Linked DNA regions of Homo sapiens: region 2 is linked to region 1. Evidence: fine-mapped expression QTL. A gene starts in region 1. The other region holds a variant in brackets. All regions are shown on one strand. Distances are between the middles of the regions. Region 1 holds the start of SIL1 (SIL1 nucleotide exchange factor). Region 2 has its middle 67 kb from the start of LRRTM2.

Region 1 (4,391 bases):
CTCTTGTAGCACTTTATTAACATCTTTTTTATAACTCGTGCCAGTCTTATTATAATTTATATGTTCATTCTCTAATTTATCACTCATGAAATATTTGTTGAATATTTATTATCTGTACTTATGGTACTAGGCAGTGACATAAGCTAGAATTATTCTTAGGCCCAGTTCTTCTCACTGGTCTCCTGGGTGTTCCAGGGGAAAAGTGAGCTGTTCTCTTTCCAAATCAGGCCCTAGGTGTTTTATCTAGACCTTTCTCATAAACTGGCACTATTCACTGAACTACTGCCCAGGGGCTTGTTCTCCCTTCCCATACTAGTAACCAAGGTTTGCTCAGTGGCTATGAAGTCAGTTTCCCATCTGCTTGAAGTAAACATAATCAAGAAGGTAAATTGTCTGCTAGAAGCTCATAGAGTACATGGAAAAGGGAAGGGAAGTCCAGAAATAGGTTGTTTGCTATTGGGAAATACTTGCCATTTGGGGAGGTAACTGTCTGGATTACTGTTTTCTCCACTCATGAATGACCAGGAATCACTATGTGGGGGATCTGAGGGCAGGAGGGGGCAGTCATTTTTATTCATCAGGTTAAGCATGTCTAGGCAAGGGGAAGGTCTAAAAGTGGAATAGTGGAAAGAGAACAGGACATTGGAGACACTTAAATCTAGCTTTAACTCCCAGTTCTACCACTTCCTGACTGTATGACTTTGTATAACTCCTTTAGCCTCTTTGAGCGTCAGCTTCTCCATTTATAAAAAGGGGATGACCATTCTGCTCAGAGGACGTTATAAGTAAATAAAATATATATGCAGCACCTGGTACAGAAAGCATGATATTCACTGGTACAGCAGAATTACAACTGCGTTGACACCAGCCTGGGCAACATAGCGAGACCCTGTCTGTAAAAAAAAAAAAAAAAAAAAAATTAGCCTGGCAACGGTGGCACGCGCCTGTGGTCCCAGCTACTGGATGGAGGCTGAGGGGGAGGATCCCTTGAGCCTGGGAGGTCAAGGCTGTGATAAGCCAAGATCCTGCCACTGCACTCCAGCCTGGGGGACACAGATTCTGTCTTAAAAAAAAATCAGAATCGCAAGTGACCTTTATTTTATTTTATTAGATTTTGAGACAGAGTTTCACTCTGTCACCCAGGCTGGAGTGTAGTGGCACGATTTTAGCTCACTGCAACCTCTGCCTGGTGGGTTCAAGCGATTCTCCTGCCTCAGCCTCCCAAGTAGCTGGGATTACAGGCGCTCGCCACCACGCCTGGCTAATTTTTGTATATTTAGTAGAGACGGGGGTTTCACCATGTTGGTCAGGCTGGTCTTGAACTCCTGGCCTCAAGTGATCTGCCTGCCTGGGCCTCCCAAAGTGCTGGGATTACAGGTGTGAGCCACCGCGCCCGGCCACCTGATGCTATTTTTAAAATAACTGGTCCTTGTAAAAAATCTACACAAGTATATAAAGTGAGTGGCTTAAAGGTGTCCTATTTTGCATGAATTTGCGAGAAATTTTATTGCTGGAGACTCTCGGCTTCTGTCCCAAACTGAGTCACAAGAACTTGATTTATTTTTACTCCGCACCCCTCTGATTGCTTTCTGAGGGTCCTTCCGCTAGAAAGAAATTACATTGTTGGAAAATCAGACAGGAAACTTCGCAGTTCCAGCCTGGAAGCAAAAGCAGGCGTGAAGCTATCTCTTCAGCCCTCCCTCCCCCCAAGGGGAGGGGCACGGGGGCAGCTCGTGCAAGAGTCTGCAGAGGGCGGGGCTAGGGGCGGGGCTCCCACCTCGGTGCGGGGCGGGGGGCGCCGCGCGCTGGTCTGGCGGCCCGCGATTGGGCGAGGCCGCGAGCGGCGTGACAGCTGCCAGCTCACCGGCTCAGACGGTCGCCGCCGCGTTTGCGCAGGGGGAGCTGGTCGCCGCCGCGGCCGCCTGGAATTGTGGGAGTTGTGTCTGCCACTCGGCTGCCGGAGGCCGAAGGTAGGGGCGGTGAGGGCCGCCCGGCCCTGGAGCTGGGCGGGGGGCTCAGGGCGCTTCCTGGGCCTCCTCCTGCCGGCGGCCTCGGCGCCTTCCCAGCAGTGTTCTGGGGACCCACACATCCTCACTAGTGTCTCCAAAGCGGGACGTCCAAGTGGGCCCGGGGCTCCCTGCCGAAGGCCTACCTTTCTTATCTTTCCCACTCAGAATGTCTCCATTCACCTCTTTATTGGCAGGAGATGGGGCCGTGGAAATTTGAGATTGGCTTTGGCTCCGCACCTGTTTTTAGTGCCCTTGCCTGTTTCATTCTCCCAGCCTAAGTTTCCGTATCTGTCCGAAGAAGGGGTGGTTTGGTGTTGATCTCCGAGACCCGTGTGTCTCTTCCCATGTGGAATTATTGTCACTCTCTTATTGCTTGTTTTTCTTTGTCCTGGAAAATTTGCCTTTAGAGGTTACAGACTGGTTAGTGTTATCTCTCGGATCGTCTAGGGGCTTTGTGCATAAGCCTTGGGCTCCATTCCCTGGGATTTCCGATAAGATGGTGCGTGGGCAGCTGTACCCCAGGGGGTTCTCATTCAGGTGGTCCCGGAATCCTGGCTTTGAAAATCCCTGCTTCAGAAGTCAGGAGAGAATGACTTGACATATGAGCCCCTGGAATGGGGCTCTGAGTGGGAAAAGCCAGGAATCAGGAAATGCTAACACGTGTGAGGCTGGGGCTTTCTTTGCACCGGAGGAATTAGAATGCCATTTGATGTCTTTTAAAAATATTTGACTACCTATATATGTAAGATCAGTTTTCTAATATTCTTAAATGCCTGGCTTCGTTTAAAGTTCAGTTGGCTTTCCCACCTCAATAAACCTAAATAAAAACATGATCTGAGAGATGGGGCGGGGGTTAAGTTAACCCAAACTAAGTAGACAGGAGGAGAATGAAACTTACATATTTGCTAAGAGAAGAAAGTGATGTGTTTATAAACAGTTTTTTTTTTTTTTTTTTTTTTTTGAGGCGGAGTTTCGCTCTTGTTTCTCAGGCTGGAGTGCAATGGTGCCATCTCGACTCACAGCAACCTCCGCCTCCCAGGTTCAAGCGATTCTCCTGCCTCACCTTCCCGATTAGCAGGGATTACAGGCATGCGCCATCGTGCCCGGCTAATTTTCTATTTTTAATAGAGACAGGGTTTCTCCATGTTGATCAGGCTGGTCTCGAACTCCTGACCTCAGGTGATCTGTCTACCTCGGCCTCCCAAAGTGCTGGGATTACAGGCATGAGCCACCTCGCCTGGCATATAAACAGGTTTTTTTTTGACATTGTGAAAGATATTTTGTTGTGTGTGTGTGTCTTTTCTGCTCTCACCCCACCCAAGTTTTTTTCTTTTCTGATAAAAGTATAGCCAGATTTGGGGATTGGGTAGGATTTTGATGGGAGCCAGAGTGTAACGATATTGGGATTGATATTTGTATAACATGGGTCAGAACTTGGTCTGTGGTTTTGAGAACATGGCTCTCGGGTTTTTAAGATGGTGTTACCACACCACATTTATTTCCCCTTTCTTTCATTTGTTTAGTGAATTTAATCTGCTCATGAATACATGTGCTGTTTTAATGAAATTGGCAATAGAAGAGACGTTCTGCTCCCATTTTACAGGTGATGGAAATGTTAGTAGGGATGCGGCAGTCCAGGAATGAAAAGTTGCCTAGTACTTTGATTCCCACTTACTTCCCCTTCCCTGCTGTTTTCTGAAGGCCAGCTATTACTTCTCTACTGAGGCCAACTGTGAGCCCTGGTGTGTTTCATTGGCAGGAGAAGAGGCTAATTAAGTGAAACTGAAAGGTAACAAAATGGATTTTAAAATAACTGACATGTGGGAACTTGATCCACCAATGAATGTTCTCCTTTAGAGTGATGTGTGCAGGTGTAGGTGGTGGGAGTTGAGGATGGCGTGCCTAAGTGATTTGGCTGTTGTCCAAGGCAGTTTTGAAAATCCACCTCTGGAATTGTTTTCAGAGACCTTTTTGAACCATGCGAGAGATCAGTTTCTTTAATATATTAAACCATACTGTATTATTATTATTATTATTTTTCAGATGGGGTCTCACACTGTGGTTCAGGCCGGAGTGCAGTGGCATAATCATAGCTCACTGCAACCTTGAACTCCTGGGCTTAAGTAATACTCTCACTAAAGCCTCCTGAGTAGTTGGGACTACAGGGGCGCACCACCAGGCCCAGCTAATTTTGTAATTTTAATTTTTGTAGAGACAGGGTCTCGCTGTGTTGCCCAGGCTGTTTTTGAATTCCTGGCCTCAAGCGATTCTTCTGTCTTGGCCTCCTAAAATGTTGAGATTACAGGCGTGAGCCACTGCACACAGCCTATATATATTTAACCCCGAATGGCATGGGTAAGCAACCTTGTCACCTGCCTTGTC
Region 2 (4,391 bases), 260 kb after region 1:
CACAATTTCGGGTCCTCCGGCAGCTTGTCAGCCCTGCCAAGGGCTGTGCCCTCATCCTAGCAGGTGTTCTCTGGGCTGCTGCTTATTCATTCATTTGTTCAACAAATCTGGTTGGGTACTACGAGCCAGGCACTGTTCTAGGGCAGGAAGTGGTAGGACAGGAGGGGAGAGGGCTGGACCATGATAAATACACATGCTTCAGGGGAGGGCCAGGCAAGGAAGACAGAGCCCAGTGGGAAGGGAAGAGGGGTAGGCACTGCTGTTTCCCCTCAGTGGTGGGGAAGGCCTCTGAGGAGGGGCCAGGCACAGGAGCGCAGCAGTGAGCCATGGGGGTGCTTTGTAGACAAGGGGATAGCAGAGGCAAAGGTCCTGCAGGAACAGGCCAAAGCACTTCAGGAAAAGCCATGAGAACCAGGCCTGGAGCAGGCAGAGACCGAGGGAGGAGTTGCAAGGGAGGGCCGCCTGGGGAGGCTGTGGAAGGGACCTGGGATTTTCTTTGAGGTGGGGCTGTTGAGAGTTGGGTGCAGAGGAGAGACCTGATGTAACCCACCTTTTTCTTTTTGAGACAGGGTCTTGTTCTGTCACTCAGGCTAGAATGCAGTGGTGTGACCATGGCTCACTGCAGCCTTGACCTGCTAGGCTCAAGTGGTCCTCCCACCTCAGCCTCCAAAGTAGCTGGGACCACAGGTGCAAGCTGTCACGCCCAGCTAATTTTTTTCATTTTTTTGTAGAGGTCTCCCTATGTTTTCCAGGCTTGTCTTGAGCTCCTGGGCTCAAGCGATCCTGCTGCCTCAACCTCCCAAAGTGCTGGGATTACAGGTGTGAGCCCCTGTGCCCGGCCTCACCTTTTCTTACTGTTGTGGTGAGAATAGATGACACAGGGGCCAGGAGGGGCAGGGAGCCCAGGGCAGCATCCAGGGGGCAGCTGGACAAGGATGTGGGGCAGGGTGAAGACATAGGACTGTGAGAAGTGTGCAGACTCCAGATGGGGCTGAGGCAGAGCTCAGGGCTCTGCTGGCGGGATGCAGGGTGTGGGGAGAGGAGTCGAGGGGATGGAGCAGATGGGCGTGGGGAGGAGCTGGTACCAGAGTGGGAGCTTGGAGAACAGGGGAGTGACTGGGGCTCTGAGGTGGACCCTGTTGATGTTTATATGGAGATGTCAGCAGGACATCCAGGTGGGGGTGCTGACAGGCAGCAGCAGACAGCCTGGAGCTGAGAGAGAGGCTGGGTGGGGGATACTGACCAGGCCTGGGAACCTCACACAAGGGAGCCGCAGGGTTCAGAATGTGGCCAGCTGGTTGTTAAACACAGCCATTATTAAAACTAAATGATGCAAGTGTACAATTAAGTAACACCAAGAAAGCAAAGGTAATTTTTAAAAACTAGTAAAAGAAGAGCAAATTAAAACCAAAGGAAGCAGAAGAAAAGGAAATAATAAAGAGTGGAAACCAATAAAATTGAAGACAGTAAAACTAAAGAAAATCAATGAAATTAAAAGATGGTCCTTTGAAAAAGAGAGAAGACATAAATCAGCAGCCTCACGGATGAAAACGGGGTGTCACTATAGGCTCTACGAGCATTAAAGGATAGTGAGTAGTGAGTATTATGAACAACTCTAAATAAATACATTGTAAAATCAATTTGACAACTTAGAAGAAATCATGGACCAATTCCTTGAGAAACACGGCCTCTCACTGTATTAGCTTTCTATTGCTGCTATGCTAACAAATTACCATGAGCTTTATGCCTTAAAACATTCCCAGTCAATTTTCTTACAGTGCTGTAGGTTAGAAGTCTGGCCCAGTTCTCATGGGGCAAAAATCCAAGTGTCGCAGGGCTGTACTCCTTTCTGGGTGGGGTCCATCCCTTGCCTTTCCCAGCTGCTAGGGGCTGTCTGTATTCCTTGGCTCCTAGACCTTCCTCTGTCTTCAAAGCCAAAAAAGGAAGTCAAGGTCTTCTCATAT[T/C]GCACCATTCTGACCTCCTCTTCTGCCTCCATCTTCCATTTTTAAGGACCCTGTGATTACAGTGGGCCCACCTGGATGATCCAGGATAATCTTCCTATCTGAAAATCAGCCAATTAGCAACCTCAGTTCCATCTGCAACCTGGATTCGCTTTCTGCCATGTAACATAACATGCGCAGGCCCAGGGATTAGGATGTGGGCATCTCTGGAAGCCATTATTCTGCCTAACACAAGCTGCTGAAACCCACTCAACAATAGATAACCTGTGTAGCCCTACAGGTACTAAAGAAATGGAATTTACTGTTTAAAACCCTTCCACAGAGAAAACTCCAGACCTATGTGGTTTCACTAGCAAATTCTACCAACTAATACCAATTTTATACAGTCTCCTCCAGAAAATAGAAGAAAACATTTCCAAACTCATTTCATGAGGCCAGCATTGCCCTGACACCAATACTAGACAATGATATATCTTTTCTTTTCTTTTCTTTTCTTTTCTTTCTTTTCGACAGAGTCTCACTCTGTTGCTCAGGCAGGAGTGCAGTGGCACGGTCTCGGCTCACTGCAACTTCCACCTCCCAGGTTCAAGTGATTCTCCTGCCTCAGCCTCCCGAGTAGCTGGGATTACAGGCACCTGCCACCATGCCTGGCTAATTTTTTGTATTTTTAGTAGAGATGGGGTTTCACCATGTTGGCCAGGCTGTCTCGAACTCCTGACCTTGTGATCTGCCTGCCTCGGCCTCCCAAAGTGCTGGGATTATAGGCGTGAGCCATCGTGCCCGGCCTGACAATGATATTTCAAGAAAAATATCCTACAGGCTAATATCCCGTCATCAACAAGATTAGGGAGGTAATGGCGACAGGAGATCCTGTAGGCTATGGCAAAGACTTTAGATTTTTCTGAAGTCTCTACAAAAATCCTCAACAAAATATTGGCAAATTGAATGCAACAATATGTAAAAGGATAATATAACCAAATGGAGTGTACCCTGGGAATGCAAGGCTAGTTCAATTAGTTCACCATATTAACAGACTAAAGAAGAAAAGGCCACACCATCATCTCAACAGATATAGACAAATATTAAGCAGCCATAATAAAAACTCTCAGCAAATTGGAACAGAAGGGAATTTCCTTAACCTCATGAACAGAAACCACATAAAAACCTACATCTAACATCAAACTTAAGGGTGAAAGGCTGAATTCCTTCCCCCTCAGATTGTAAAACAGGCAAGAATGCCCACTCTCCTGACTCCTTTTCAACATTGTACTAAAAGTTCTGGGCACTGCCTTAAGGCAAGAAAATGAAATAGCATACAGATTGAAAAAGAAGAAATAAAATTGTCCCTATTCACAGATGACATGAGTGTCAATGTAGAAAATCCCATGGCATCTGTAAAAACAATTTCACAGAACTAGCTAATGACTTTAGCAAGGTCATAGGATACAAAGTCAGTGTATAAAAATCAACTGAAAAGTGAAATATGTGCAGGATTTTATGCTGAAAATTATGAAATACTGATGAAGTAAATCACAGAAGATCTAAGCACATGGACAGACCTACTGAGTTCATTCATGGGTTGGAAGACTCAACATTGTTAAATGATGTCAGTCCCCACAAAATTGATCTCTAGATTCAATGCAGTCCCCGTAGGAATTCTTTAGGTATCAGGAGTCTTATTTGAAAACTTACATGGAAATGCAAAGAACAAGAATAAGAATAGCTAAAACAATTTTGAAAAAGAAGAACCAAGTTGGAGGGCTAACACTTGCTGATTTTAAGATATAAACCTGTAATACCACAGTGTGGCATTGGCCAGACCCACACAGATATAGTTAATTGATTTTTGACAAACATGCAAAGGCAGTTCAGTGGAGAAAAGACTGTCTTTTCAATAAATGGTACTGCAGTCATTAGACAGTTTTTTTTTTTTTTTTTAGAGTCTTGCTGTGCCACCCAGGCTAGAGTGCAGTGGTGCAATCTTGGCTCACTGCAACCTCTGCCTCCCAGGCTCAAGTAATCCTCCTGCCTCAGCCTCCCAAGTAGCTGGGACTACAGGCATCGAATCTTTTTGCCTAATTTTTCGTTTGGTTGACTGTTTTCTTAATGAATTTTGAGGGTTCTGTTCATTTTCTGGATACAAGTCCTTTGTCAGATATGTGATTTACAAATATGTTCTGTTTGTAAGTTTTTATTCTTTTAACAATTTCACAGAGGTTTTTATTTTAATGAAGTCTAATTTATCCATTTTTAAATTTTATGAATGGTGACTTTGATGTTGTCTCTAAGAACTCTGCCTAACTCTAAAGTCACAAAGATTTCTCTTCTGTCTTCTTCTAAGAGTTTTATAATTTTACATTTAGGTCTCTGATTTTGAGTTAAATTTTGTATAAGATGTGAGGTACTGTAAATAGGTCAAGGCTCATTTTA

Evidence for each region. PIP is the estimated chance that this variant, and not a neighbour inherited with it, causes the effect.
Region 2: its variant is the best candidate, but not a certain one, in a credible set for the expression of SIL1 in whole blood (TOPMed, PIP 0.73).

Annotation. Positions count from the first base shown.
Region 1 is chr5:139,195,848-139,200,238 of GRCh38, reverse strand. SIL1 (SIL1 nucleotide exchange factor) reads left to right here and starts at 1,871. Exons shown (of 10, transcript NM_022464.5): 1 at 1,871-1,970. RefSeq lists a silencer at 1,666-2,195.
Region 2 is chr5:138,939,732-138,944,122 of GRCh38, reverse strand. No RefSeq gene overlaps it. Among named protein-coding and RNA genes, the nearest start is that of LRRTM2, 67 kb to the right of the region's middle. The variant T/C (reference allele first, on the strand shown) is at 1,965.